Linked DNA regions of Homo sapiens: region 1 is linked to region 2. The links come from fine-mapping of genetic effects on gene expression. A gene starts in region 2. The other region holds a variant in brackets. All regions are shown on one strand. Distances are between the middles of the regions.

Region 1 (15,294 bases), 39 kb after region 2:
CAGGAGCCTCATGCACATCTCACACTGTTGCAAAATTGCCTTCAGACAGGATTCTGATTTCCGTCAGAGAATTTTAAATTCCAGCTAATGGAATGCTTTGAAGGCATGTGCCACAGACTTCTGCCCAGTGCAAGTCCTGTGTGTGAGCAAATCTAGCAGGGACTCCAGAGCCTGGACAGCAGAAAGCTGCACTTCCTCAAGAGGATGCAGGATCCTCTCACTTTCCCAGTTATCCTACAGCTGACTAGTCAGCTGAGGGATTCACCTGGCGTCTGTATCTCCCCACTAGCTTCTTACTGTGGGAAGAGAAAGAATAGGATCCTGCTGGGAGCCAGGAGTCCCTGGGTTTAATTAATGGCCTTTTGGCTTTCTTCCCTTCCCCTCTCCACTGTGTGCACTGGTGGACACTGGTCCCCATCCCTGAGGTTCAGTCCTGCCCTGGATTCCAGGTCTACACCAAGCCCGAGAAGGTTCTGGATGAGAAGAGCTGAGTAATTTGCTTGGTCAACAATTTTTGAAACAATGCTTGAGATAACCTTTGGAATCTGGGTTCTTCAACTACACGGTTTCTGTCTTACTTTTCTCTTGCAGGAGGGTCAGTGCTTTCATTCCCAGCCAGCTATTCCTTGTTCTTCATGTCCTCTACCACCTAGTCCCAAATATACAATGAGAACTCCTGGATCTCTTAGTTTCTAGGTGTCTAGTTCTACTTCCCTTTAAATTAATGACTTCCATCCAGGACACAGTGGTTTTGTTTGATTGTATTAATGGATTAGACAGGCCCAAATCTAATGGCAAGCTTTGCCCCTGTCTAGTTGGAGGGCCTTAAGAAAGGCACTTGACATCTCTGAGACCCAATTTTCTCATCTGCAAAACAGTTTTACTAAGATGTCCTGAAGATTAAATTATATAATATATAAAGAGTCTAGGAAAGAGTAAGCCTGTAAATGATGGCTATTATTATTATTTTTACTAGTGTTTGACTATCCATTTCCTCCATGACTGTTGCCTGGGTTTCCAGTGCTCTTCAGACTTATTTTTCTTTGATCACACATCAGTGAGTCCATGGCTAAATGAGTCTATCTTTGGCTCAACTCTCACATTCAGATATATTCTATGCTTTCACCTGAACTTGGGGATCCTCCATGGATTACTGGTCCTACCTCAATTATTTTTCCTGCTTGTTCTCTGCCTTATTTGTCCTTCTACTTCCTGAGCCCCTAATTTATTCATGTGAAAAAGCAAAATTGCACAATGTAAATTCTATGAGAACAGCTTCACTCTAAGGTAAATTATAATGTCTTGTCTTATTCAGGAAATGACTGGATGTTGATGTTCATGTATATCATCTACTAAAATGATAGAATGAATGCTTTAGACACTCTAGAAATAGTTTGTTCTATTTTTCTCTACTTGACTGATGATCTCTTGGGATCAGAACAGATATTCACAATATTAAAACTATAGTAAATGGTTTTGTGGTTGTAACCAATGACAAATAATTTTTTCTTTTTGAATCTGACATCCTCCACATCTACTCTCTGGGATGGAAATGTCTTTAGTGATACTGCCAAAAGAAGCATCAGAGAGAGATTAGATAGAGATGACCTTTCCATGAATTTTAAGAGGAAGACTCTGATATGGTTTGACTTTGTGTCCCCACTGAAATCTCATCTTGAATTGTAATCCTCAGGTGCCAAGGGAAGAACCTGGTGGGAGGTGATTGGATCTTGGGGGTGGTTTCCCCCATCCTATTCTCATGATAGTTGTCACAAGAGCTGATGGTTTTAAAGTGTGGTACTTCCTGACGCTTGCTCTCGCTCACTCGCTTTCTGTCTCTCTCTCTCTCTTGCAGTCTCTCTCTCTCTCTCTGTTGCCTGCCGCAGGTAAGATGTGCCTTGCTTCCCCTTCACCTTCTACCATGATTGTAAGTTTCCTGAGGCCTCCCCAGCCATGCAGAACTATGAGTCAATTAAACCTCCTTTCTTTATAAATACTCAGTCTCTGGTGGTATTCTTCATAGCAGTGTGAAAACGGACTAAAACAGAGAATTGGTACCAAGGTAGTGTGGTACTGCTATAAAGATAACTTGAGAACGTGGAAGCAACTTTGGAACTGGATAACAGGCAGAAGTTGGAACAGTTTGGAAGGCTCAGATGAAGACAAGAGGATGAATGAAAGTTTGGAACTTCCTACAGACTTGTTGAATTGTTTTGACCAAAATGCTAATAGTGATATATGATATAGACAATGAAGTCCGGGCTGAGATGGTCTCAGATGGAAATGAGGAACCTATTGGGAGCTGGAGTAAAGGTCACTCTTACTATGCTTTAGCAAAGAGCCTGGCAGCATTTTGCACCTGCTCCGGAGATCTATGGAACTTTGAACTTAAGAGAGATGATTTAGGGTGTCTGGCAGAAGAAATTTCTAAGCAGCAAAGCATTCAAGAGGTAATCTGGTTGATTCTGAAAGCGTTCAGTTACATGCGCTCACAAAGAGATGGTTTGAAATTGGAACTTACATTTAAAAGGGAAGCAGAGCATAAAGATTTGGAAAATGTACAGCCTGACTATGTGGTAGAAATTTTTCTGGGAAGAAATTCAAGCCAGCTGCAGAAATTTGCATAAGTAACAAGGAGCCAAATGTTAATCACCAAGACAATGGGATAAATGTCTCCAGGGCATTTCAGAGATCTTCAAAGTAGCCCATCCCATCACAGGCCCAAAAGCCTAAGAGGGAAAATGTCCTCAGGGCCCTGGGCCCTGCTGCTCTGTGCAGCCTTGGGACATGGCGTCCTGCATCCCAGCCACTCCAGCTCCAGCTGTGGCTAAGAGGGGCCAAGGTACAGCTCAGGGCATTGCTTCAGAGAATGCAAGCCCCAAAACCTTGGCAGCTTCCACATGATGTTGGGCCTGTGAGTATTCAGAAGACAAGAGTTGAGCTTTCAGAACCTCCATCTGGATTTCAGAGGATGTGTGGAAAAGCAGGCAGAAGTCTGCTAGAGGGGTGGAGCCCTTATAGAGAACCTCTGTTAGGCAGTGCAGAAGGGAAATGTGGGGTTGGAGCGCCCATACAGAGTCTCCACTGAGGTACTGCCTTGTGGAGCTGTGAGAAAAGGGCTACTATCCTCCAGACCCCAGAAAGGTAGATCCACCAACAGCTTGCACCTTGCACCTGAAAAAGCCACAGGCATTCAATGCCATCCCATGAAAGCAGCTGGAGGGGCTGTACCCTGCTAAGCCACAGGGGTGGAGCTGCCCAAGGCCATGGGAACCCACCCCTTGCATTAGCGTGCCCTGGGTGAGACATGGAGTCAAAGGAGATCATTTTGGAGCTTTAAGATTTAATGACTGCCCGGCTGGGTTTTAGATTTTCATGTGGCCTGTGGGCCCTTTATTTTGGCCAATTTCTCCCATTTGGATGGGAATACTTACCCAATGGCTGTACCGCTACTGTATCTTTTTTTTTCTTTTTGAGATGGAGTCTCCCTCTGTCACCCAGGCTGGAGTGCACTGGTGTGATCTCGGTTCACTGCAACCTCTAACTCCCACATTCAAGCAGTTCTCCTGCCTCAGCCTCCTAAGTAGCTGGGACTATAAGCGCCGGCCACCACACCCAGCTAATTTTTGTATCTTTAGTAGAGATGGGGTTTCACCATGTTGGGTAGGCTGGTCTTGAACTCCTGACCTCAGGTGATCCACCTGCCTCGGCCTCCCAAAGTGCTGGGATCACAGGTGTGAGCCACTGCACCTGGCCCCCTATTGTATCTTGGAAGTAACTAACTTGCTTTTGATTTTACAGACTCATAGGTAGAAGGAACTTGCCTTGTCTTAGATGAGACTCTGGACTTGGACTTTCAGGTTAATACTGGAATGAGTTAAGACTTTAAGACTCTTGGGAGGGAATGGTTGGTTTTGAAACTTGAAAGGGACATGAAATTTTGGAGGGGCCAGGGGTGAAATAATATGGTTTGTCTCTGTGTCCCCACCAAAATCTCATTTCAAATTGTAATCCTCAGATGTCAAGGGAGGAACCTGGTGGGAAGTGATTGGATCATGGAGGTGGTTTCCCCCATGCTGTTCTCATGATAGTGAGTGAGTTCTCATGAGAGCTGATGGTTTTAAAGTGTGGCACTTCCTGGTTCGTTCTCTCTCTCTCTCTCTCTCTCTCTCTCTGTCTCACCTGCTGCTGTGTAAGATGTGCCTTGTCTTCCACCATGATTGTGAATTTCCTGAGGGCCCCCCAGCCATGCAGAACTGTGAGTCAATTAAACCTCCTTTCTTTATAAATTACCCAGTCTCTGTTGGCATTCTTTATATCAGTGTGAAAGCAGACTAATACAGACTCCTTCCCTGGACACTAGAACCATGATGGCATTAGGGATGGAGTTATTAATGCATAATAGCAGAAAGCTCTTTACCTCAACATTATAAAGATAATAAAGGTATAGTTAACAATGATTGTACACACATTGTAGATTCCATTACAGTATTAAATTGAGCAATAGTGTTTGCAGCAAACTATGGGCATTATTCTTTAATTTCCCCTCCCATTAAATTATTCTTTAATTTCCCCTCCCATTAAAGGAGAGGGTGGTCTCTTTTCAGGTAAGGATTGCTCATCTTTTTCTTCTGCATGCCTCATGCCATGCATGCCCCATGCAGGTGTAAGCTAGATGGCATTCTGTATGTCAGGACCATTTTTCATTACTGCAAAATACTCAAACTAAGTTTTAAAGAAAAGAATTTCTATCCTATGCATTGCTATAAGGCTTTTTATTCCAACATATGGTATTAAATACGAGTTATGTGCTCAACTGTGAATTTATATGAAAAGGAGATTAGGACACAACAGGCATAGAGGAAAGATCATGTGAAGACACAGGGAGAAAACACTTATCTGCAAATCAAGAGGAAAGATCCCAGAAGATACTAACCCTCCTGATAGATACCTTGATCTCCGACACCTGTCTGTGGTACTTGATGATGGCACCCTAGCAAACTAACATAATTGTGATGAAACACAGAGGCCCAAGAGTGGCCTTTGTGTTTCATTTCAGTGCTCTATGTTCTGGCCAATTGTCTGTCATCTTCCTTTGTGCGTGAATGAGTCCCCTGTGGGCAAAAGCAGAGGCCACCCGTGGAGACATACCTAGATGGGTGGCAGGCAGACAACCACTATCTGTCATCTACCCAACCACCACTTATGTCCTTTTCCCTCCACATCCCTCTTCTTTCAAAATCCCTCCCCTCCTACTCACCTTCTTCAGGTAGCAGGAGTGGGAGGTAGGAAAAAGCAATAGACTTATTAATGTTAAAGATCCAAGCTGCAAACCTTTGCTTCTGATTAGCTTTTTGGTTTCAGACTCTTTCTCTAGGCAAAATTTTCTCAAAATTATCTGCTACAGGAATTCAGAGAAACATTTAAAACTCTAAAAGTAGACCGATACCACCACCTTCCCCATCCTCCACCCAGCCAGCCTGTGACAGTAGGTAAAATCTGTATACCCAACACCAATTCCCTTGATGGTATTTGGATCCATTTCCAATTGAGAAGCAGTCATCTATCCTTTTTCATTAGCTTCGCCTTCACTGGTGAGAAGTTAGTGGGAAGTAAAGACTCTGGAGGCCTGGAGTTGTTGGGTTTTAAAATTTTATGCCTGGAGGGTAAGTCCACTCTAGTAAATGTGAAGTTATTTTTAAACTTAAAGCCATGGAATACCACTACATTATAGTAACCAGCTATTTTGCAGTATAACCTACATTCATTCATGTATTGTTTGTATGAATGTTCTGTTTCCAGCATAATGGCTTTTAAAAATTAAAGATATAAATTAGCTATTATTAGAGAAACAGCACAATAGTAAAACTCCCATAAATTGGCATAAGAAAATATTAATAATAGACTCTAGAGGGGACAGTCTCTAAAGAATAAACAAACCATTGAGTAGAGAACAGAAATCCCACCCAACCAGTAAGTGCTCTATGCTGATCTTCAAACAATGGGTTCCTGGGTCTTAGCAATAACAACAAAAACAACTCACCACTAACCCAGTGCTTACTGAATCTCATATGCTTTACATGTATTACTTTATTTTTTTTTCCAAATGTCACTTTTGAAGAAGATACCTTTAATATTTCCACTTTACAGATGATGAAATTTTAAAGTGTTATATAAATTGCCCAGCTAGTAAATGGTAGAGCAGGGATTCAAACCCAGCCTTAATATATATACTATTATTTTGATCCCCAGAGCACTCAATATAGTGTTGGGTACTTTTAAAAGAACTAAGAAAATGTTGAGCCATATGGGGGATGATTCAGCCATATTGTAGGGACAGAAAACAGTAAAAGTGACCCAAATACCCTATCTTTAAAATTTTTCTATGTTTTAACCATTTATTTTCCACATTATTCTTTTGTGCAATGTTTGCTGAGCATCTGCTATGTTCCAGGTACGGTGTCGGGTGGAAAACAGGAATAAATAATATACAAACCCTTTTATTAAGTAATTCAGAGTTCAATGAAAGACTTCAAAGGAAAACAGATCATTTTTAAATGATCGAACTATGTGACAGGTGGAGTGGCATTAGCAGAGCACAGAGGGGATGGTCAGGACTGGCTGCTGGCAGGAGGGGACATCTGAGCAGGTGAGAGGCAGGGGTGTGGGAGGAAGACATGTAAGACCTTAACAGGCAAGGGTACAGTGTGAGCACTGGCAGGAAAAAGAGTTGCTGGAAATTTCCAGCAATTCATTGTTGCTGAAGCAGAACGTGTGATGCCGGGCGGGTCCCTGATCGTGGAGTGGAGGAGGGATGCAAAGCATGGAGACCCTTTTAAGGCACCAGAGGAGGGAGAGAGATTGAACAAATAGGAGAGGTGGGTGGGTGAGGGAGAGAAGAGCCACTGAGATCATCACAACTCAAACAAAACTAAAATGTAGTGCATGTCCTTGAGTTCTCTTGCTTTCTCCCATTTTCCATGAAAACGTGCAAACTAGCACCTTAACACTTTTTGTAATTTCATGACAAATGCTATCATATTTCATAGCCAGCAGATGGCACTAAGTATACATAAAATGAACATTTTGCACACTCACTTTTTTTTTTTCTCTTGAGACAGTCTCACTCTGTTGCCCACGCTGCAGTGCAGTGGCGCAATCGTGTTTCTCTGCATCCTGGGCTCCAGCGATCCTCCTGCCTCAGCTTCCCGAGTAGCTGGGACCACAAGCGCCTACCTCCTACTTATTTTAAAAGAGTTCAATCCAGGCTCTACTGTTCCCAAGGGACTTTTCTCCATACTAGGAACTCTAAAATCTGACAATGGTTTGGATCTGTGAGATAGAAAAGGCATCTTATAGGTACAGGGTCCTGTCTTCTGCCAGGGTCTACTGTGCTGCAGTCTCAGAGGGATATCATCAGGGGATCCCAGTAAGGTTGTAAAATGAATAATGATCTTGGTGGCACCACACCATCTCTGTGTAGTGAGGAAAACTTATGTAAAACTGGAACGGGTGAAGGGGTGAAACTAGGAAGGT[G/T]TCATAGCTGTTAGAGGATGGGGAGCAGGACTGGGTGGGTAAAGCCTTCAGCTGTGAGGCCCGTTGACATCTATGAAAGAGGAAGAAAGCGGGAGAGCCTCCAGCTGCAAAGGACGGCTGACCAGGGCTTGGCTTGCTCAGTGAGCAGCTTCAGAGCAAAGATTGCCTGATGAAGCAGTTCAGCATTGGGCTGAAACAGCCAGGCCCTACAGTACCCTTCTCATCTGGTTTGGCTCTGTCCCCACCCAAAATCTCATCTTGAATTGTAATCCCCATAATACCCACATGTCAAGGGAGAGGCCAGGTGGATGTAATTGAATCATGGGGGTGTTTTCTCCCATGCTGTTCTCGTGGTAGTGAGTTCTCACGAGAGCTGATGATTTTGTAAGTGTTTGGTAGTTTCTCCTGCGCTCATTTCTCCCTCCTGCCACCTTGTGAAGAAGGTGGCTTGCTTCCCCTTCACCTTCTGCCATGATTGTAAGTTTCCTCAGGCCTCCCCAGCCATGCTGAACTGTGAGTCAATTAAACCTCTTACCTTTATAAATTACCCAGTTTTGGGTATTTCCTTATAGCAATGTGAGAACAGACTAGTATATCTTCCTTGCTCAGTCATTGGCTGGGGGTTACCCAGGAAGAATGTGACCCAGAGTGAATGCCATGCACATGCTGATGGCGCTACAGTTGAAGGCTGTCAGTTACCTCTGCTCCCTGCAGCTGGACAGCAGGTTCTCAGAGGAGTACCCTAAAGGTGGTGTACTTTTGTGGCTGCCACACCATCCTTGTTAAAGAAATAACTCTCATGTATGATCTCCATTGTATTTCTTAGGTCTGTATGAAGCTGTGTAAACAGTCTTGCTCTTTTCAATAGCTGAGGTGCTTTTTAAATAAAATTCATAGGTTCTTGGATATGATTCAATCCAGTATAGTCTGTGAACTGGCTTTGCAGCTTCATCTGAATAATCTCAATATTTACATATGAGTTATATGTATCTCTTGGAAGAAAATTTTAAAAGTAAAAGCCATTATCTATATGGGCTCAAAGGATATGAAAGAATTTTAATCTCAGAAAAGCACAATAAGGAAGTCAATATCTATTTTAATCTCAGGCAAGCATACTAAAGAAGTCAGTAGCTGCAAAAGCTCCTCAAAAAATTATTCTAAGTCAAATATAAATAATCTTATTTGCTCTTTTGGATTATGAATACATCATAGCTTTTTTATTAACATCCAATTCAAAGTTGGCCTATTGTCTGGTGGTATTAAAGTGGATCACATGTGTAGCCCTTAATAATGCACATTGACATGGAACACTTGGCTTGATCCTCGTAATTCTATGAGGTAGGTATTATCACCTATGTACAGATGAAGAAACACATCCTGAGAGATGTGAATTTTAATGCAATTTCTATGAATGACATCTTTTTTTCAAAATCCTATGAAACACAATCTGGTAATTTTTAAGACACCGTACCACTCTTTCCTTACACCATATACAAAAATCAACTCAAGATGGATGAAAGATTTGAATGTAAAACTTAAAACTATCAAAACCCTAGAAGAAAACAAGAAAGGCCATGGACATATGCCTTGGCAAAGACTTCATGATGAAGATGCCAAGAGCAATTGCGGCAAAAACGAAAATTGACAAATGGGATCTAATAAAACTAAAGAGCTTCTGCACAGTAAAAGAAACTATCAACAGAGTAAACATACAACCTACAGAATGGAGGAAAACACCTGCAAGCTATGCATCTGACAAAGGTCTAATATCCAGCACCTATAAGGAACTTAAATCAACAAGCAAAAACAAACAACCTCATTAAAAATGGGCAAAAAGTGTGAACAGACACTTCTCAAAAGAAGACGTGCATGTAGGCAACAAGCATATGAAAAAATGTTCACCATCACTAATCATTAGAGAAATGCAAATCAAGACCACAGTAAGATACCATCTCACACCAGTCAGAATAGCTATGATGAAAAAGTAAAAAAAAAAAAAAAAAAAAAAAAAGATGCTGGTGAAGTTGTGGAGAAGAGAACACTTATACACTGCTGGTGGAAATGTAAACCAGTTTGGCCACTGTGGAAAGCAGTTTGGAGATTTTTCAAAGAATTCAAAATAGAGCTATCATTCAACCCAGCAATCCCATTACTGGATATATACCCAAAGGAATATAAATTGTTCTACCATAAAAACACATATACATGTATGTTCATTGCAGCATTATTCACAATAGCAAAGACATGGAATCAACCTAAATGCTCATCAATGGCAGAATGGATAAAGAAAATGTGGTACATATATACCATGGAATACTGTACAGCCATATAAAAAAATGAGATCACATCCTCTGCAGCAACATGGATGGAGCTGGAGGCCAGTATCCTAAGTGAACTAACACAGAACAGAAAACCAAATACTGTATGTGCTCCCTATAAGTAGGAGCTAAACACTGAGCCCACATGGACAAAAAGAAGGGAATAATAGGCACCAGGGCCTACTTGAGGGTGGAGGGTTGGAGGAGAGCGAGGACTGAGAAAATACCTATCAGGTACGATGCTTATTACCTGGGTGACAAAATAATCTGTACACCAAACCCCATGACATGCAATTTACCTATATAACAAACCTGCAAATGTACTCCTGCACCTAAAATAGAAGTTGGAAGGAAAAAAATACATTGCACAAATGGAAACAATAAAATCTACAATTTGAACATTTATTTGAATAGCTGGACGTGTCATCAGAACAACTCTTGATGCTTATTTAGGCTCCCAGAGTTACCTAAAGAGAACATGAGGTTTAAGAACCACTGATGAGGAATCAAAGCCCTACTTTGAAGAGTATAAATATATATTAAGCATTATATACATATATACACACACATTTTAAAGAATTATAAAATGAACACTTGTATACTTAACACCAAGGAATTGAATATTAACATTGAAGCACCCAGGGCTTCTCCTGTATTGCATTCTTTCCTAGAAGTGATCACCAGCCTATGTTTTGAATTAATTATGCCTATGCTTTCGCTGTTTTGCCACACTATATCTTCTATAATATTGTCTTGTTTGCTTTTAGGCCCTATGTAAATGGCATATATATTGACATGCACACACATCCCCTTTGATGACTTAGTTTTTTAACAGTCTATTTGACATTGGTTCCCACTGATGCTTGTCACTGTAGATCACATTCATTCCTTTACAATATTACGTTGTATGGAAATATCCATTTTATCCATTCTGTTGGTGGGCCTTTGAGTTGTTTTCAGCTTTTTTTCCTCAGGTACAAATAATGCTTCCATGAAGATTCTTGTAATTGGTTTCCTTGGTATATTTGTAACAACATTTCTTTAGGGTGACACTATAAATTGCAGAGACTACATACTTTAAAACTTATTAGGAATTAACAACTTATTTTCTAAGGTGGCTGTACCAATTTACACTCCTACTATAATTTCATGAGAGTTCTTGTGGCACCCTGTCCTCACCAATTCTTATCTGAATGTAAATATTACCATGTGGTTTTAATCTGTATTTCCCTATTTTCTTCTAAGACTTTAAACATTTTACTTTCATTTAAGTCCTTGACCCATTTAAATTTGACTTTTGTGCATGAAGTTATATATATATACCTGTCCTTTTGAAAATGTCCTTATATTTCTCTTATTAAGAATTTTCAAAGATTTTTCTTTCCCCTTATCTCAATCCCCATCCTTTATGAACAGACTCGATGAATTAAAGAATATGAACCCATACAGAGCTTCAGAGACATACACTTTCTAAAGAATATGGTGAGTTTTTCTGGACATAGAACAAATACAAATGAGAATAATAACAAATACTATTTTGGGCCTCACAAATTAGCAAAATATATTCTTAATAAGGCTAATTAATCCCAGTGAGAGTGTTGTAAAATGAGCATTGTTATACACACTAACTTTTGGTGGTGCATACAATCCAAAAGGTGCACACATACCTTTGCAAAGGTAATTTGAGGCTAACTGCATTGAAGGCTTTAAGGGTGTCCACAGTTTTTTTAAGGAAATTTAACTTTATGAAATCTTTCCTATGGAAATAACTTTAAAATCATAAAGTATGCACTAAGATGTTCATTGCAGTGTCTGTATGTATATCTTAACCACTTTTGAGCTATTGCCATTTTTGCTGCTATGTGTATGTATATATATAATTGTCCCCTTCTTTAAAATGTCCTGTTTTTTTCAAAACTAATTTTTCTGTGAGTTTGTCCTTCGTGTATAATAGGAACATGTAATGTATAAAAATATAAACATAATTTTATTATTAAAGTACTCAGATTTTTGGTGTCTATCAGCAGCAAAGTGGTAGAACACAGATACTGTTGAAGCTGTGCATTTGCTTCTGACAACCGGATGAAGCAGATGAAGGAATTGTTGCAGCTTGTGTGCACCTCACTTCTAGCCATAGTTGCAGATTAGTGTGCAAACATAGGATCCTAGAAACTATGGAAAAAGCTTCATTGAATTAAGTGAAAATCTCCTCATGTTTCAAAAGAATAAAAAATAAAATTTATACAGGCAAGAATTCAGTAGAACAATTTGTATAAGAACAAGCTGCAGCCCAGTACTCCTATTTGTTGACATCAAATAAAGGGGAGACTATTTGGAATTCTGAAATGAGCTAACCTCACTCTGCAACTTGATATTACTGAAATGGTTATTAGTGAGTTGTAGTGGGTAGTGCAGAAGAAACTAATGTTTGTTGAGTGCCTTTATGTGCCAGGTACTTCAAAACTTTGTTTCACTAATCCTCATAATGACTCCGCCAAGTAGGTATTGTGAGTTCTGCTTTACAGGTGAAGAAAGCTCATGGAGTTAAGTAACATGACCAACCATAGCATGGTGCCTGACATACAGTAAGTGTTTAATGAATATCTTTTGAATACATGGTAGGTACCTAACTAATGGAAGCAGTATTCAAACTTCGATACATCTCATTGCACAGCTCACACTATTTCCATCATAGTATATTGCCTTCTGTGTAAGACTATACAGAATCATTTTTAAATGGCTAAGAAAGAGCACTGCCAGTGTAAACATGGCTAGTAAGCCCAGCAACCTATTTCTCCCTTTATATGAGAACAATTTCAATTTCAAAATGTATGCATTGTGAAGGATGAGAAAAGACAGAAAACAGGATCTTCAAGGGCTTTACAGTTACTTAACACAGCTAGTACATGAAAATAACATAAATATATATGAAAACATCGTATGTGTATGGAACATTTTATTAGTACAGCTCATCCATTTTTTGTTGAGTTCTACTGACTTTTTAAAATTTATTTTACTTTAAGTTCTGGGATACATGTGCAAAACATGCAGGTTTGTTACATAGGTATACATGTGCCATGGTGGTTTGCTGCACCTATCGACCCGTCATTTAGGGTTTAAGTCCTGCATGCATTAGGTATTTGTCCTAATGCTCTCCCTCCCCTTGCCCCCCACCAACAGGCCCTTGTGTGATGTTCCCCTCTCTGTGTCCATGTGTTCTCATTGTTCAACTCCCACTTATGAGTGAGAACATATGGTGTTTGGTTTTCTGATCTTGTGTTAGTTTGCTGAGAACGATGGCTTCCAGCTTCATCCACGTCCCTGCAAAGGACATGAACTCATCCTTTTTTATGGCTGCATAGTATTCCATGGTGTGTATGTGACACATTTTCTTTATCCAGTCTATCATTGATGGGTATTTGGGTTAGTTACAAGTCTTTGCTACTGTAACATCATCTGAAATGTGTTACTTTAATTTTATGTTAGGTGTTACGTCTCTTTTCCTTTTTTGTCCCACACATCACTGAAACAGATTATTTGAAAATGCTAAAATAAGTAAAATGTGCGGCATGCTTTCTTAGATGCTTTGTCTCCTGTACCAAAATAATTTACAAATACAAAAGTTGGAAATAATTTTATTAGTTTTTTAATGCATAAATCCAAACATATATATGTACTGAATATTTTATTAGCTAATACAGTACCATTTTAAAAATTCTACCAACTTAAACTATTTCCTGTAAAAACATCATCCAAAATATACTTTGTTAATTTTTATGAATGTTATTTTTTTAAGTCTCTTTTCTTTGACGCTCTCCTTTTTTATCCTGTGCTTACACCAAAAACAAATTATTTGAAAATGCTAAAATAAAATGTGGCATGTTTTCTTAGCTGTTATGTATTCTGTTATAACATTTTACAACTATTAAAGTTGAAAAATAACTTTATTGGTTTTGCTGCATATAGCTGCCTGTCTGCTATAAGAGAACTAATCTATAAAATTAAGGCATTTTGTTATTTCAAGTGTAGAGGGGCAAGAATGTAAGGGAATTATAAAAACCCCAAGATGACTCATTTAAAGTAGATGCACATTAAAATACTATAGATCTGGCATATTTCATATTTATAAAGCAGACAAAAAGAATGTTTATCTTTGCATTTGGCAAGAGTATCTATCTTCAAGATAACTACCACTTTTCAAAGCACTATTGTTGGGTAGGTTTTATTAGGGGAGAGGACTTAGAAAACATGACTTTCCTCATCCAAAACCAAAAATAAATGAGGGCTTAAAAATATATTATTTAAGAAGATGATAGTGGCCAGAAATAAAGACCATGACCAACAAGCTTTGGGGCCATCAAGATGAAAAGCCGTTTGCTTTATTCAAGATCTAGGATCTGAAAATCTCACTTCATAAATTTAACTGGATTTTCTTTTCTGATTATGTTTAACCCCAAAATTTGGTTGTATACCATAGCAGTTTCTATTTTACCTGGATGTTAAAAGAAAAACCATTGGAATCTAAAGAGAGATGAATAACCTCTTGAGCTTAGATGGAGAACTAACCAGTGGCAAATATGTATCTAGTGGGGTAAATACATCTCAAGAGATTCAAAACGTTACAAAACAAGGTGTTTTTAAAAACACTTCAACTTGAAATTATAAAAAAAAAGTATTAAAAGGTATTAGAGATCTTTCTTAAGGGCTGGTGAAATAAAAACACCTTAAAAGACACACTGTTACAATTTGCTCACAGAGGTAAAGAGGTTGTGATCAGTATCAGCATTTTAAGGATGTCATTTCAGAGCTTGCGTTCTTCTCCCTTAAGTGGTTCAAAGAGTTTGAGCAGGTACACTCTGGTACTAGGGAAAATCTGAAGCAATTCACCTAGTTGGATGAAAAAGGACTTACGTACCCTTGATTTATTAAAATTCATTGTTCTTTTATATACATTTTTCTTTAAAATTCTGAAATGAACATTTGTTTATGCAGTATGACATGAATGATTTAATAACTTATATGACAAGCTTAATAAGGCTGACATTCAATGAACAGAAAAGTAATTTACCTTTTAGTAATCAGAGAAACTTTCAATCCATTTTTATCTTATTTTTAAGTGTCTGTTATTAAAGCTTGTGATTTTTATTAATGTAAATAAGCCAAAGGGTGATTGTTTTTGACACACCACATTGTGCCATAGTGTAATGGGTAGTTTCCTTCTCAGTTAACCCTCAATACTCTGTACACACTATTCTGAAATACTGTGGTGAAGTAAGGCCTGGCATCTTTGAGCAGGACGCTACATAAGGGAGGGTTAGCTGCATTGGAAGGGTCTTCCACATCACAGATTTCAAGCATACTGCAACCAGGCCTGAAAAAAGACAGACATATATATCCATATTAGAAATGTATTCCTGTCTAGAGAAAATAGATACATAAC
Region 2 (15,294 bases):
TTTTAAGCACAACTTTAGTTAATCAGAATCTCCTCCATATATTTTGCATTAAGCAAAACTGTGCTTTCCAACAGTTAAGAAAAAATTAGAAAACTTAATTACAATGAAAATGTCTAACATCTGTTTGTCAGTTGCAGTTTAGAGAGCCCTTTCACATATTAAGCAAAAATGATCTAGGGGTGCCTTTGAGGCAGATATGGGTCTTATTTTCCCATGAGGCTCAGGGGCACATGACTGGGATACAGCAAGGCCTGGAGGAGAGCTGGGTTTCTCTGACTCCAAGCTCAGGCTCGAAGATGTTAAGCACATTCAACGAAGAGGATGCACTAGCACACAGGAGGAAATGCCTTAGAAATCACAAGAGCATCAAGGACAAAACGATTTATTTTAAAGTGAATACAGTATATGAAAACAGGAGAGCATGGAAAGTATATATCACCATCCCAAAGCGGAATATAATTAGGCTTCTAAACAGAGAAATACACTAAGTAAATGTTCACATATTTTAAATATGTATATATGTACAGATATTAAATTAGGCAATACTTAATACAACTACTCAACGTAAGTGTTTTGAAGACAATAAATTCTAATTTCCCTTAAAAGTCTTATCCTCACATAATATGAATACAAATGTTACCAGAAAACGGTCCTGATCCAGACTACAAGACAGAGTTCTTAGATCTTGCAAAAGAAAGAATTCCGGGCGAGTCCAAAGCAAGTTCATTCAGTAAAGGAATAAAGAATGGCTACTCCATAGGTAGAACAGTTTGGGCTGCTGGACTAAGGATACTTATAGTATTCTCATACTTATGGTTATTTTTTGATTATATGCTAAACAAGGGGTGGATTATTCATGAGTTTTCTGGAAAAGGGGGGGACAATTCCTGGAACTGAGGGTTCCTCCCCTTTTTAGACCATATAGCCTAACTTCCTGACATTGCCATGGCATTTGTAAACTGTCATGGCACTGGTGGATATGTCTTTTAGCATGCTAATGTATTACAGTTAGTGTATAATGAGCAGTGAGGATGACAGAGGTCACTTTCATCGCCATCTTGGTTTCAGTGGGTTTTGGCTGGCTTCTTTACCGCATGCTGTTTTATCAGCAGGGTCTTTGTGACCTGTACCTTTTGCTGACCTCCCATCTTATCCTGTGACTTAGGATGCCTAACCTTCTGGTAATGCAGCCTGGTAGGTCTCAGCCTTATTTTACTCAGCCTCCATTCGAAATGGATTTGCTCTGATTCGAATGACTTTGACGCAAACATTTCAAAATCAAACAGTAATCTACATTAGTAATTTTCATAAAGTAACTTTCTTCTTATTAAAAAAGTGCATTTTATTGTTTTAAGAACAAATGGCTAGATAAGATACACAACCAAGATAATATGATCTGCTTCTGAGCATGCATAGGGAAGCTGTAAAACTTTAGTAAACCTAATGGAAAAAGTGTAGAATCTGCATCTCTCCACTAGAGTAAAAAGAGAACCACACACACCTACAACACACGTCCAGGCCCCATCATATTCAGCAAGAGATTTAACAAGTTCATTAACTGATAACCCATTCCAATGGTAAGATATGCATTCCCCTCAAATTGCAAGCTTCCCCTGGGTATCACAAATCTTGCTTATCTTTTAAGTGACTAAGAAAACTGTGACAGTTTTTTACTATTTTACTGTGTTGTTATATCATTGCCAAGCCAACCAACACAAAAAAATTCAATTAAATAGTTTTCAAAAATAATCATATAAAAAAACCCCAGAGACTGACAGGTTGACCATAAAGATATAAAAGAGTGATTCCCCCAAATGACCAGAAGCCAGTAAAGCTCTTGTCAAAAGAGCTCTAGGGTCATGGGACACATGAGGTCAACTTCCCACTAATGTGCCTTTGACAGATGCCTTAGACTTTAGATCTGAAACCTACAATTTTACACGGATGTAATTAACAAAGACAAGAGAACTCAACTTCAATCCCAAACTTCACCTGCTGAACTCAATAATTACATTGGGCCATTCACCTGGCCCTATTTTAGTTTTCTCACCAAGAAAATTCTAAGAGGGTAACCTTTAAGTTCTACATTTTTATAACATTCCCATGGATATGAAAGATGAGAAAAGAGTGAGAAATAAGGTCTCATTTTCAAAAAACAACAACAACTTTTTAAACTTAGCGGAAAACAATTACATAAGAACTTTATGATTAATATGAAAACCCGCAGAAAAAGATTCTGCTGTTGACAACTCCAACACTGAAAAGCTATATTATAAAAAGTAGTAATTACTGTTAGGAAATAGGAAAAGTATTTGCCCAAAGGGCAGAGTAGTAGCACTTTGGACAAATTTTAGTATTAAAAATATTAATAAAGCCTCGCTCTTCTCAATTACAACAATCTCCCTAAACTAATAATTTGTCTAGGTAACAAGTTTTCAAAAGTAACTGGTCAAGTGACTTATAAACTGTGTTTACAATTAGTGCTACTGTAAACTAGTAGATAAAATCACACGTTTTCATGATCAGTACAATAAACCATACTAGAACTTCTGTAAGTGGTCTTGGTGACAGCTACGCTATTATGTTAACAATTGCTGCTTTAATAAAGTTAAAATTACAAAATGCCATCCAAACATTCTTTATGTGATAGTGATCGTGCTGAAAAACACACCTGACAATCAGCCACAAATATGGAGAAAGATGCCAGAAAAACACAAACAGCTATTAAGAGCTCTCAGGAAAAAAATAATAGTGAGAATGCTGAGAAAATAGAAAGCAGTATTAAAGCACAAAATCAAGCTACAATAGTTGTAGATTTATGTATTCTGAAAATAAATTATTCTGCTTTTTAAATGTATTTATATTCAGTGATTCTTGACTGAATTATGAAAGGTCCTCCATGGAGAACTGATCTTCCCTATGAAATGAAACTGCCCTTTATGAGATTAAACAACATCTAGACCCAGATATAGACGTAATTTTTACTAGCTTTGATGACTAGTAACCATTATAACTAAACAGTTCTAACAGTAACTAAATAAAACTAGCAGCCTCTTCCCCTGGAAGAGTAATGTCTCAATGGTTTGGCTGAAGTACAAGCTGATGGCAAAAGAACTAGCAAAACAGGAATTTAGGATTAAACATATGAATAATAAAGCCTAAAGCTACCCCATTTGGAACTATGTACACAGGTTTATGGTCTCTATGACAATGTAGATTTAGTCAGTCCTCCATATCTGTCAGTTCCACATCTGCAGATTCAACCAACCTCAGATTGAAAATAGTAGGCGGAAAAAAAATCCATCTGTACTGAACACATGCAGATATTATTCCCTAAACAATACAGTGTAACAAATATATAAGTAACATTTACATTCTATTAGGTATTCTAAGTAATCTAGGCATGATTTAAAGTATCCAGGAGTATGTGTGTATGTTATAGGCTAATACTATGCCATTTTATACTAGGGACTTGAGAATCTGCAGATTTTGATATCGGAGGGAGGTCCTTGAACCAATCCCTCGGGGTTACTAAGTAACAACTTGCCTCATTAGCATGAACTTTAAGAAACATTAATATACCTAACACACTCATTAAGAGAAATTAATACAGCCTAATAGGATAAGTATTTACAATGCATAACAGCCACGGTTCAAATATTAGCAACATCCAAATACCCATATGTACATAAATAAAACTGTATGTGCTTTCAGTATTGATGCCATATTATTGGCCAAAAATCAATCACAAATAGATAACATATGCTTATATTTACATAAACTAAACTTATCAAATTTGTTATTTGGATGCTAATGAGCATCACATATTCAGAAAACTTCTAACTGTATCTGTTAATAATAAAATATGTTTAGGTGATTATAAACATTCTTTAGAGTTAGCCAGAAGTCTATCTTAGAAAGAAAAAAAAATGGCTGTAAACATTAAAGAAATTCTTTAAAATCCCAAATTCCCATTGGCATAACCTCTATGAATTAACATAAACACACTCTCACAGCTGGTGCTCAGTTGGGTCTATGTGTCTGTTTGAAAGCAAGCACACCAAGATGGCCTGTGTCCCTGTGCCTCATGCTTCCTTAGCTTTTCTTGGCCCTTATGCCACCCCTAATATGCTCTTTCTACTTGTTGTTCCTGTATCTCTAAGTATGACCCTCTTTTCCTTCTTTTTCCTGGGGAAGGAAGAAACAAGAAAACTAACATTTATTGAGCACAAAATGTTAGGGTTTCTCAGAATTGGACTCTAGGGTTTCATTTCTTTTGCTGTACTGTCCCCTTAGAGGAGATGAAATATAGCATACTAGTTAAGAGCATGAACTTAGGAAACACATTGCCTGGGTCAAATCCTGGCCCTTCTACATTCTAGGGGTGACCTTGGACAAGTTACTTAATATCTTTGTGCCTCAGATTCCCCCCACGTGGTAAAACAAGCACAGTAATCATAGTGTCATGGTGAGGACTGAGTAAACAGTTAAATGAGTTCATCTAAAGCACTTCCAACAAAGCCTGGCAAAGAGTAAGCCCCCTATCAGTATAAGATGCTATTGTTCCCCTAAGTATGGAAATAGAAGTTCAATGGGAATACAAATTCAATTACCATTAATGTGAAAACCACCTATTTGCTGATGACTCCCTGTAGTACATCTCCACTCAGACCTTTTCTCTCATATCCCACCACTGATTGGCATTTCTACTTGGACATCTCACAAATGTCCCAAAAGTAACATGTCCAAGACGAAATTCTTGACCTTTTCCTTCAAACCCATTCCCTCATCCATACCCCTAGTCTTCACTATCTTGGTGAATGCCAGCATTATTTACCCAATTAGAGAAGCCAAAAATGTACAAAGTATTCATAACTCCTTCCTTTCCCTCAATCCAAGCCCAATTCATAAGTCCTATCATTTTCACCTCCAAAATACAACTCAAATTGACCAATTTCTCTCCATCTCCACAGCCACCGCCTTCATCTAGGCCAGCAACCCTCTTGCTAGGTCCGTGAACAGCCTCCTCATGGGTCTCTCCACTTTTGTCCTTGTAGTGCAACCACCCATTTTCCCAAGAGCAGATTTCTCAAAGTAAAAATTTAATCATGTCACTCTCCTCCTGTTGAGCATTCCTCAATGGCTTCCTGTTGCACTGAGAATAAAACCCAAGCTCCTTTTCAAGATCTGGCCCATGCCCATCTCACTTTGATGCACCTCCACCCTCTCTTCTTTCAACATGCTAAGCTCTGTCATACTCTTCTGTTCGGCTGACATCTTTTCTTTCTATCGGTCTCAGCTTCAAGGCTACCTCCCCAGAGACCTTTCCTGACCCTACTTAAAGAGGGTATTTCCTTTTTTTTCTATCTCAGCTTGTTTCTTTCCTGCAGTGCACTCATTCACAATGTGCAATTATTTTCATTTATTTACCATCCCCCCTTCCAGAATGTAAGTTCCATGAAGGTAGGGGTGACAGAGTCTCATTCTACATTTTACCCCACCAACTAGCATCTGGCTTAGTAGACGCTCAATGATATGGTATGACTGACTATGAATGAACTTACTGTGCTATTTTACATGTATTATCTCATTTATTTTTTACCATAATCAGACAAAGCATTTATTATTCCCATTTTAAGGGTGAGAAATATTAAAGGAGTGTAGAACAGCTCGAATGCAGAAACAGGATTCAAATGCAGGCCAGTGTTGATATGGCTATGCTGCTTCTACCACACCACATTGCTCCCCCCATCTAGTCCCCAACAGCTAGATTCAACTCTCTGCCTCCACCCAGTTTCTGACCACTTCTGCCTCTAAGAAGTCGCAAGTGTTTCCTACCATATGGGCTTCAAGGTTCTCGTAAGCTGTAGAGAATAAAAGCTGTGGTCCCAAATGACACAATTTTGCCTCCCAGGGTACAATGGCCAAAATCTGGAGACATTTTCGTTGTCACTACTGGGGAGATACCAGTGGCATCTAGTAGGTGGAGGCCAAGGATGCTGCTAAAATCCTGCAGTGCACAGGAAAGCCCCCTCAACAAAAAAATTATCCCACCCAAAATGCCACAATGCTGAGGTTGCAAAGCCTTGTCAATAAGGAACCAGGTTATAGCAGGTGTACCCTTGCCATTGACCACAGGAACCAGGTGGGCAATGGGAATGAGTCAAACAGGATTAATGCAAAGGGGGGAAAAGGTAGTTTTTATCATCCACTTTTCCCATACTCAGGTTCTTGTTTTATTGTTGTGTATATAGTATCTCATGTTAGTCTTTCACCACAGACATGCTTTGTTTGCATGTCTAATGGGTGTATCTTTTACTACCACAATTGTTTCCATGACGGAGCACTGGCATACATAAATAGACCAACAGACATATAGACTTATGCATATATGTACTGAGTTGCATTGTGGAAGTGTGAACAGGTTTAATATAAAATGTATTGTTACAATGTCAGCTGTGGTCAAAAAAGTTTGGGAAACATTGTCAAGGTTCTTACTATGTCACAGCCACCTCTGCATGAGGAAGCTATCAGGTTGAAACTTCTAAAAATAAACATGTCAAGAACCCCTCTTTACAAATATTAGCACTAAATAAGTAGCAAATAATGCCCCACAATAAGAAAAACATATATTTATGAAAAGAGACTTTTCAACAATGCTTAACCCTGCCCAACAGTGGAAAGACCATGTTGGAAGGCAGTGAGTTCCTCATCAGTGATTAGAACCTATGGAGGAAAGCCCCAGACAGTTTCTAACTCTTGAAAATGTGTGTTTCTATCACGGAGCTTTAAGTTACAAAATTACTTTCTAAATAGAAATGAATCCATTTCTGTCTAGCTTAATATTTAGTTGTTATAATTGTTCTTTTTTTGATCAGTTACAAATGAACTCTTGATGAACAAAAGAATATGCAATGCAATGTGGAAAACCAAACAGCTATTTTAAAGTCCCACATTGAAATACTGTATAATGTCAGCTCAACTCTCACTCATTCTGGGAGGGGGGAAGAAAACAGGAAATAAGGCAGCTTTCAAAAATGTCTAAACTCTGCTCCTCTCTGCAGGATCTGAGTGGTTTTTTGACGCTGTGGCAGGGCATAATCGTGGGGAAGAAATAGGTCTGACATCAGTTTATGACGGTACAGAGCCAGAGAAAGAAGCAACCCAGGTCCAATCATTCAGCAGAATCATCTCTCAAGGTGCCCTGGGGCCTCATGCAGAGGGTTAACAAGGACAGAAAGTCTCTAGACCTGGGTCTGTTCATCCAACTTCCATATATCTGATGGCCATGGTCCAGGGTACACCCAAAAATACAATCTACCACATTCACTGTACCTCCTTTCAATGCTCAAAGGGGCAAGTCAAGCAACGTGCTATACTGTTACATTAATACAAAACTGTATTTAGGTATGGGAATTACTAAATCCAAAGGTAAGTCATCCAAATATAAGTCATGCATCCATCCAAAGAAGATTCAAAGGAAACGCAATCAAAAAAGAAAATATGCAGAAAATAGCAATAAATATCATTATTCTAAGATTTGTTATTGTAACATCCCTGAAGAAGCAATGCCATTCTATATTTTACTACAAAGTGGTTAATGTTTAGTCATTCAATAAAAATGCAACTCCATTCTGTCATCAGATCTCAAATCAGCATCACACACTTTCTTTTATTACAACAACTACAATGTGTCAAGTGCTCTAAACACAAAGTATCTTCCCATGTATCACCCACACCTTTTAGTTATGATCCTTAACAGATCCTGTGGATCCCTGTGGAGTAAATTCGCCATGTGATAACCCCCCACTAGCAGAGAACGAAAGACTCACAAAGGAACCTGAAACTTAAACCAAACTGAACCGCTGTGTACTAGATCTGAAGGCTCTGCCTCATCCACTGTATCGTGCTGCCTCCCCAAGGTGAGCTTTTCTAACCTGCATACTAGCCAGCTTTTCAAGCTTGCTACTGAGATAAAAAAAAAGGGGGCGGGGGGAAATGTGCTGGAAACAGACAAACAAACAAACAAAGAAAAACAAACTTGGTTTTTCTAGGCTTGAATCGGCAATGGGGGGAAAAAAAGTACCCTAGGAACAACCTTCTTGAGCCCATTAAAACATACAGAGATGACTGGCTTTTTATGACTGAGTGGCTTTTATTTGTGGCTGTGATCTCAGGGGAAGCCAATTTGCTGTGTCCTATTCCTTGACTTATACTGGACCCCAACTCCTGGCTAAGGGAACTTTGAGTCACCAAGGGAATCTGAAAATATACTAAGGGATAAATCAACAGTAATTAAATAGTTCAGTAGCGAAAAGCCCACTGAGGCATATAGAAAAAAGCAATGTAACAGCATTTCACTAGTTGACTTAGAAAAATTAGGCCTGTTATCCAAACTGCTACAACTTGCCTTATCAAAATTCAACCAGGAAACAGAGGAAACCTGAAGTCAGTCCGAAACATACGAATGCGTCAACTTTGTTTTTTTTTTTCAGCACATCATTACACATCATCCATTTGGTAAATGGCAGAGGGAGGGGAGGAGAGCCCTCCTCACCAAAGGTTCCAAGGGCAGCAGGGAGGATTAAGGCTCGGGCGCCCCAAACACAACACAACCTAGAAAGTGACGTGTCGAGGGGAATCACAAATAAAGTGCCACCAGCGGCGTTTGCGGCCAGGAAGAAAAAAGTACGCTAAAATTTAATTATAAGTTTAAGCAACTCTCTACGACATGGAACGTGCGTTTGCTTTGAGCTCCACGGAATCGTTTCCAAGCCAAAGCAAACCATCCTGGCGGTCAGAGGCCGAGATAACGGGAAGGCGGCCAGTCGTACCAATCAGCAGCGCTCAAGTCTCGTTAGCGCAGACCTGCTGCCCGCGGCCAGGCCGGGCAGCTGTTGATCCCCGGGCCATTCTTTTAAAGCCCAGGCAGAGCGCGGGTGGGAAGCGTGCGAGGAGAGCTGAGCCAGGGAGTTGCGGGGAGGAGAAGGTAAGAATGTCCCAGAGAAAAAGTCGGAGAGGGCTGCAAACTGGCTGGTCCGGCTGGCGGGGCTCGGCGCGGCGGAAGCGGGAGGAGAGGGGAAGGAAGGGGAGGGGAGGGGAGGGGAGGGGGCCAGCGCCTCAAAGTTCCGCGTCCCGGCGGCGCCGGCGCTAGGGCTGCTCACCTAACAGGAGCGTGGTCCAGGTCCGGCCGCGCCCCGCGCGCCGCAGGCCCAGCGCCCAGCGCAGCCGGGCGGCCAGGCGCCCCCCAAGGCCGCCCCCGGCGGGCGGCGCGCCGGGCTCGGCGCGGGGCCCCTTCCTGCCCGCGGCGCCCTTGCGCCCCGGGGACAGGGGCGCGCGCTCGGGCCCCGGCTCCCCGGCGCCGACGTCCGACGCCCCCCTCAGCGGCGACTGTGAGGCGCGGGGTGGCTGGGGCGGCTTGGGAGCCGCCTCCCGGTGCTTGTTCCGCGCCTGCAGGACCATCTTGGCATAGTCGCGCCCGCTCGCTGCGCGCGCCCGGACGGCGGCCAGAGAACGGCGGGCTGGCTGGGCGGCTGGGCGCAGCTCACTCTCCAGCGGGCGGGCGGGCGGAGGGTGGAGGGCGGGCTCGTCCCTCCCCGCGGGCCGGGAGGCGGGGAGATCGTGGAGGCCGGGCGGCTGCTGCCTGGCTGGCAGTACCGCCGGGAGGCGGCGCCGGACTTGCTAGCCCGCCGCCGTTGCCGCCGCTCCGGTTGTCACGGCGACCGCGGAACGCCGGGGGGCGGGGGCGGGGACACCCTGCGAGCGGCCGCGGCCCCGCCCCCGCCGCCCCTCTGCGCCGGACGCGCGCTCCAGGCCGGCCAGCGCGCACGCGCGGACTTCCGGCGCAGGCGGGGCCCGACCCCTCTGGCGCCCGGCTACCCACACCTCTTCGGCGCCCGCGCGGGGCTCGGCCGGTGCGAGGACGCGGGGGCGGACGGCCTTCCGGAGGCGGCCGCCCTTCCATTGTGGGAGTGATGGGGCCGAAGGAAGAGCCCTCTCGGGATCGGGGCGCTGATTCAAGTTTCGGAGCCTGTTAAGGCTGCGCTTGGAGCCCGCGCAGGCGAGACGCGGCGGGGCAGGGAGAAGGCGCCCGGAGCGGCCACTTAGGGGCGCTGTGCGTGCGCCCTGGGCGCCTGGTCGGCCCCACCGATGTGAAGCGCGCGGGTGGCAATCAAGTCACCGTCTCCGTTTACTCCCCGCAGTGTGGTCGCGCAACTTGGAGCGCAGCCCCTCACTCACCGACAAGAAGAACGGGTGCGACCCGATTTAAGATAGTAACAGAGTATTAAAATAGCAGCCTGGAATCTCATGGGGAGCTGATAAGGGACGAGGCACAAGTGTAAACTGAAGACCAGGGTAGGAGCCAGGCTGAAGGTGATAGGATGGATTGGCTGGAGCAGGAAAGATCATCAATAAGTACATTCAGTTTGTTACACTTGCTGTAACCTTGTTGCTTAATAGGAAGCAGGAAAACTTGGCGTTGATAAGATAGGAGATTTTAGTCGAAAATATGTTTTCTTTTACATAGCAGAATGCACGAGTAAATTAAACCCGGGAAAATTTAGAAACCCAGGTAGATCCCAATTCTCCCTCCACCCCTGCATTCTTTGCACACAGTCTTACAACAGCATGGATTACAACTGGGAGGTTCCTTTCCTGGCCGTGCCCAGTGGCTTGTTCCAAAAAGTTGTCTTTAAGTCCCAATGTTGTAAATCAAGGCCCATCGTTCTGCTTATCTCTATTGTAATTCCAGGGACTTCACGTGGCTTTCTCGCTCTTTGTTTCTTTGCCCAGTGATTTCTTTACTAATACCAGCATTCGTTCATTGTTAGCCTTTTTAAGAGACAGTGGATTATTTTGTAAAGGGAGGGTGTTTGCCATGCTAATTAATACTCCCTCATACCCTGTCTAGTTTATGAATTTGGATTTTCCAATGTCTTTATTGGAGCAAAGAACAACTATTTTTATACACTGGTTTAAAAAATAATGGTTGAAAGTAGGATGCAGAAGGCTTGGATTCTGAAACATTGTGTCAGCTGAACTCAATGCTACCTCTGGGATTAATGTTGAATGTATTCAGTTAAAAGAAAGCTAATTCAATGCCTATTAAAGATAATACGAATAACTGGCCGGGCACCGTGGCTCACGCCTGTAATCCCAACACTCTGGGAGGCCGAGGCGGGCAGATCACGAGGCCAAGAGTTCAAGACCAGCCTGGCCAAGATGGTGAACCTCTGTTTCTAATAAAAATACAAAAATTAGCCAGGCGTGGTAGCAGGCGCCTGTAGTCCCAGCTACTTGGGAGGCTGAGGCAGAAGAATCGCCTGAACCCGGGAGGCGGAGGTTGCAGTGAGCTGAGATACGCCACTGCACTCCAGCCTGGGCGACAGAGCGAGACTCCATCTCAAAAAAATAAATAAATAAAAATAATACAAATGATGGATTTTTTTTAATGATTAGAAAGACGCATGGAAAAAGAGGTTCAACATTTGAATTATTAGATTGCTGTGTGTCTACTTTATGTGATAGGCCCTGAATTCAGGAACTGCCTCCCTTAAGCTGGTACCGTTTGTACCAGGAAAACACTTGTTGAATGAGTGAGTGAATGAATGCAGTTCCACAAGTGCTTGTCAGTTCCCCTTCTCGGCTTGGCAACCATGCGGAGAGGGGCAGTGTGAGGTATTAGTTTTTTGGTTTTTTTGTTTTGTTTGTTTTTTTCTTAAACACGGTCAATTTAGATCCAGTTTGCAGCCACTACATTGACCCATACCAGCCTTGACCAAGGTATTATACCTCTTTGAGTCTGGATTTCTTCATTCTTAAAATGGAGGCAACAAAAACATCTAGTTCACAGGTTTGTAAAAAATAAGACAATGTGTGTAAAGCATCTAACAATTACATATATCCAAGTAGTTGCTCAGTGAATGTTCAAATTGTCTGGATGTTGGTAGTTGCTCAATAAGTGTTCAAAGTAGTGGATGACGTTTAAGGAGAGTGGCAAACTTCTGTCCTCCCAGAACCTGAAGTTGACATTCCAAGTTGGGGTATAGCAAGGGGAGAATGCCACTCTGAGCGGGAGAGCAAGAACAGCCACGTGATCTTTAAGCCAGGCCTGCTGGGCTTCAAGCTTCTCAGCTCTCTGGGCAGTTGATGTGCCTGAATGGTTTCCTGCTTTCCACAGATGCTTTACAAATGTTGCCCATCTCATGGGTCCTTAGGCCTGGATAAAATAGTAGGCAACTCCTCGTGCCCCCTCCCAAAAGGGAGGCATTTCACACAGGAAGGGTGGAGGAATGGAAACCAGAACAGTCATGGAAGATTATGTGCCAGATTTCATTTTATCCTTAGTACAACGAGATCCACAAGAGCAGAGAATGGGAATGCAGTTAATTTCTATATGTATCTGTAGACCAGTGCCTGCCACACATAGCGGTGGATGCTAAAAAACAAAAAATCTCTGGCAAACTGAAAGCTGCATATTAAAAAAACATTTTGTACATGGATGATCTATGAACGGATCTAAGATTATAATGAAATTAAGCATTAAAATTACCAGCTTTAATGTGCTTTTTTTCTGGGAGTTCCAGATGCACCAGAAAGGTACTTCCTGCATGATGCTATAGAAATACTGGGTCAGGGCAGACAGATTTTTAAGGACAGGAACCTGAAAGGGCAACCACTTATAAAGAATTGCTGCTGCCCTGGCCCCTGGGGTGCAAGCCGAGTCTTTTTCTCACTACAAGTTACACTTTGGGCATTGAAATAAAAATGTTTAATTAAAAAGACATATCTTTTAAACTTTGGGGATGGAGACAGAGGAGATTATAAGGAGGAAATGAGCATAAAATAAAAAGCAAGAACATAAAATCATAGAAGAAAACAAGATGTGGAGAAATAAAGCTTAGTGATAATAAGGTATAGGAATCAGGGAAACATTGTCAGATGGGCAATGAAAAAAGTAAATTTGGTCAAGGGAAGACTATGTTGGGAACCAGTTTTCTTATGTCTCCACATTGGCATTTTAAAGGCCCCATTTAGAACTTCTAAATATTCCCCTTTTCCTCCTACTTGCTCTCCTACCCATAGAGTGACAGCTGAATGAGAAATCCATGACATTTATTTGTCATTTCCTTGAACTAGGTCACTTGATCACTGTATTGGAAAAGTGTCCTAGGGTCAAGTTCTAGAATCTGACATTTGTCTTGCTAAGCAGTTGCTCATTCCAAGAGAGGAACCTGCATAATTCCAGCACACTTCTTGGAAACCTAAAATGGGTGCAACAAAATATGTCTGTAACATTCTACTTTCCAAAGCTCCAGCATTAACTTGACACTATATTATAATATATTCTTTTAGTCTGATGAGAACAAATGTAAATTGCTACTCTATTGCTCTTCACATTTTATCTTCTGTCTTTCCTGGAGCTGACCTTGTAATTTAAACTGTTCATGCTCCAATGAGTGTTCCTGAGGAACTCAGAGTTCATTATTAGGTCTAGTTATAGTGCATCATCAAGAACCACTCTGTTGCAGAGAGGCATGTCTCTTTAGAATGTAATTCCTGTTGTTGAGGGCTTACTGTGTCTTTAGTAGATATTAGAGACACTTAAAATTCATATACTAAATCCCCATCCCCAAGGGCTTACAGTTTCATTGGACAGGCAGGGTAAGCTAGAAAAACATATATAGCAAAATATGTGATTCAGAGAATAAGTACTAAAAGATTTCCAAAGGGAAGAGATGATGGCCAACGTGATTTAGTTTTCAGGGAATAGGTGAAATTTGGTCTAGGCCATGCTGGAAGGCTAGATTTTGTTTTAATAGAAGGGAACATGGCAAAGGAAGTGTAATCAGGGAGCTATATATTTCTAAAAACCCTTGCTCAGTGCCTGGCACACAGTCGGTGCTAATATGAACACTTTAAGCCTCTTCAGATGAGGAAGGAAGGGAAGAAACAACTAATGTACGTTTTAGGAATAAGTGAATGGATTAAAGAGTGAATGAATGAGGTAACTAATGAGTGGAACAAGAAATGCCTAGACTACCCCATCTGAAGCCTGGCTTTCAGAGTTCCCCAAATCTAATTGGGCCAGAGCAGGCTTCTCCCCCAAGGGTACTTAGTTCCCCCTACTATGAAGGTGGCTTTAGGAATACTGGGAGGCAAAAATTCTACCTCTGGCCTCCTCTTTGGGCCAGAACTTGCTTTCCTCCAGCTTGCTTCTGTTGACTCCTTTTCAGAGGCCTGAACCTTCCTCTCACCTGCCCCCAGACACAGGAAGATTTGGGACCAATTCAGTTGGACACCGTTTGGTCAATCTCCTACCTCCATTATCTAGGGTGGGAACCTGGATGTATCACACAATGTATCCTCTGACTCCTAAGCTGTTCCCTCTACTCAACCTTGCCTTATGCTTCCTGGGGTCAGCGATCTGTTCCTGATACACTCAGCTCTTCTCTGTAGCTTCCACCCCTTCCCAGAAGACCCTTCTCCTATGACAGGTTCATTCTCCCACAGCTCCACTCCCTCCCTCCCCAAGCCCTCTTTCTCCCTCCTGGAAAACTCCTCTGAACTCCTTTTTATCTCTGCTCTTTGTCACTAGTGTCTTGTGCAGACTGCCCATTAGCTCCCCCTTGACCTCACCAGCATTGGCCCCAGTCCTTCCAGCTCCTACCAGTGCTAGGAATGACTTCAACACTGAGCCTCTCAGCCCCTTGACATCCTCATCTCCAGGGACCTGCACTCCCACTTCATGTCATTGACCAATACTTACGGTCTCACCTTGCACCATATCATCACCCCAGTCTGGCTTTGCCTCTGCATTTTAAAATTCAAACATCCAATCCTCTACTGTCTCCAAGTCTGTTTGGTATTCTGTCTTCATCCCAGGGCCTGTCACTGCAACTCCCTCTGCCGGGATCTTTCCTTGCTTGGTCCGTCTGTCTCATCCACGTGGCAGAATGTTACTATCCAACTTTGGATCCGTACCCATGCTATTTACTGGAGTGCTGGAGAAATCCCACAACATAGAAGGCAGGAACCCTATGGATTCATAGTTTCCATTAGCAACTGGATCCCACATACTGCCTTCTACATTCTCCTAGTTCCATTCTCCCAAGAAGATACAGCAAATGTCCACTAGTCTCTTAAACCTGCTACCATGTTACCCACTCCCACTCCCCTAAACATGGCCTTGCCTCCTACTCAATGGAGAAACTGGGCACCATCAGAAGGAGCTGCCACATACCCTCAGACTCACCAAACAGTCTGCTTCTTACCCCAGTGTAAGCACTGAAC

What was found.
Region 1: its variant is fine-mapped to the expression of DPY19L1 in whole blood (INTERVAL, PIP above 0.99).

Annotation. Positions count from the first base shown.
Region 1 is chr7:35,066,516-35,081,809 of GRCh38, forward strand. The region is part of intron 1 of LOC105375228 (a long non-coding RNA gene); the gene reads left to right. It also overlaps the pseudogene DPY19L2P1. Among named protein-coding and RNA genes, the nearest start is that of DPY19L1, 37 kb to the left of the region's middle. The variant G/T (reference allele first, on the strand shown) is at 7,537.
Region 2 is chr7:35,027,933-35,043,226 of GRCh38, forward strand. It overlaps DPY19L1 (dpy-19 like C-mannosyltransferase 1), which reads right to left and starts at 9,553. Exons shown (of 22, transcript NM_001366673.1): 1 at 9,165-9,553. The coding sequence starts at 9,462. LOC105375228 (a long non-coding RNA gene) reads left to right here and starts at 8,854. Exons shown (of 3, transcript XR_001745162.3): 1 at 8,854-8,989. RefSeq lists enhancers at 1-299, 10,163-10,392 and silencers at 9,243-9,412, 9,443-10,112.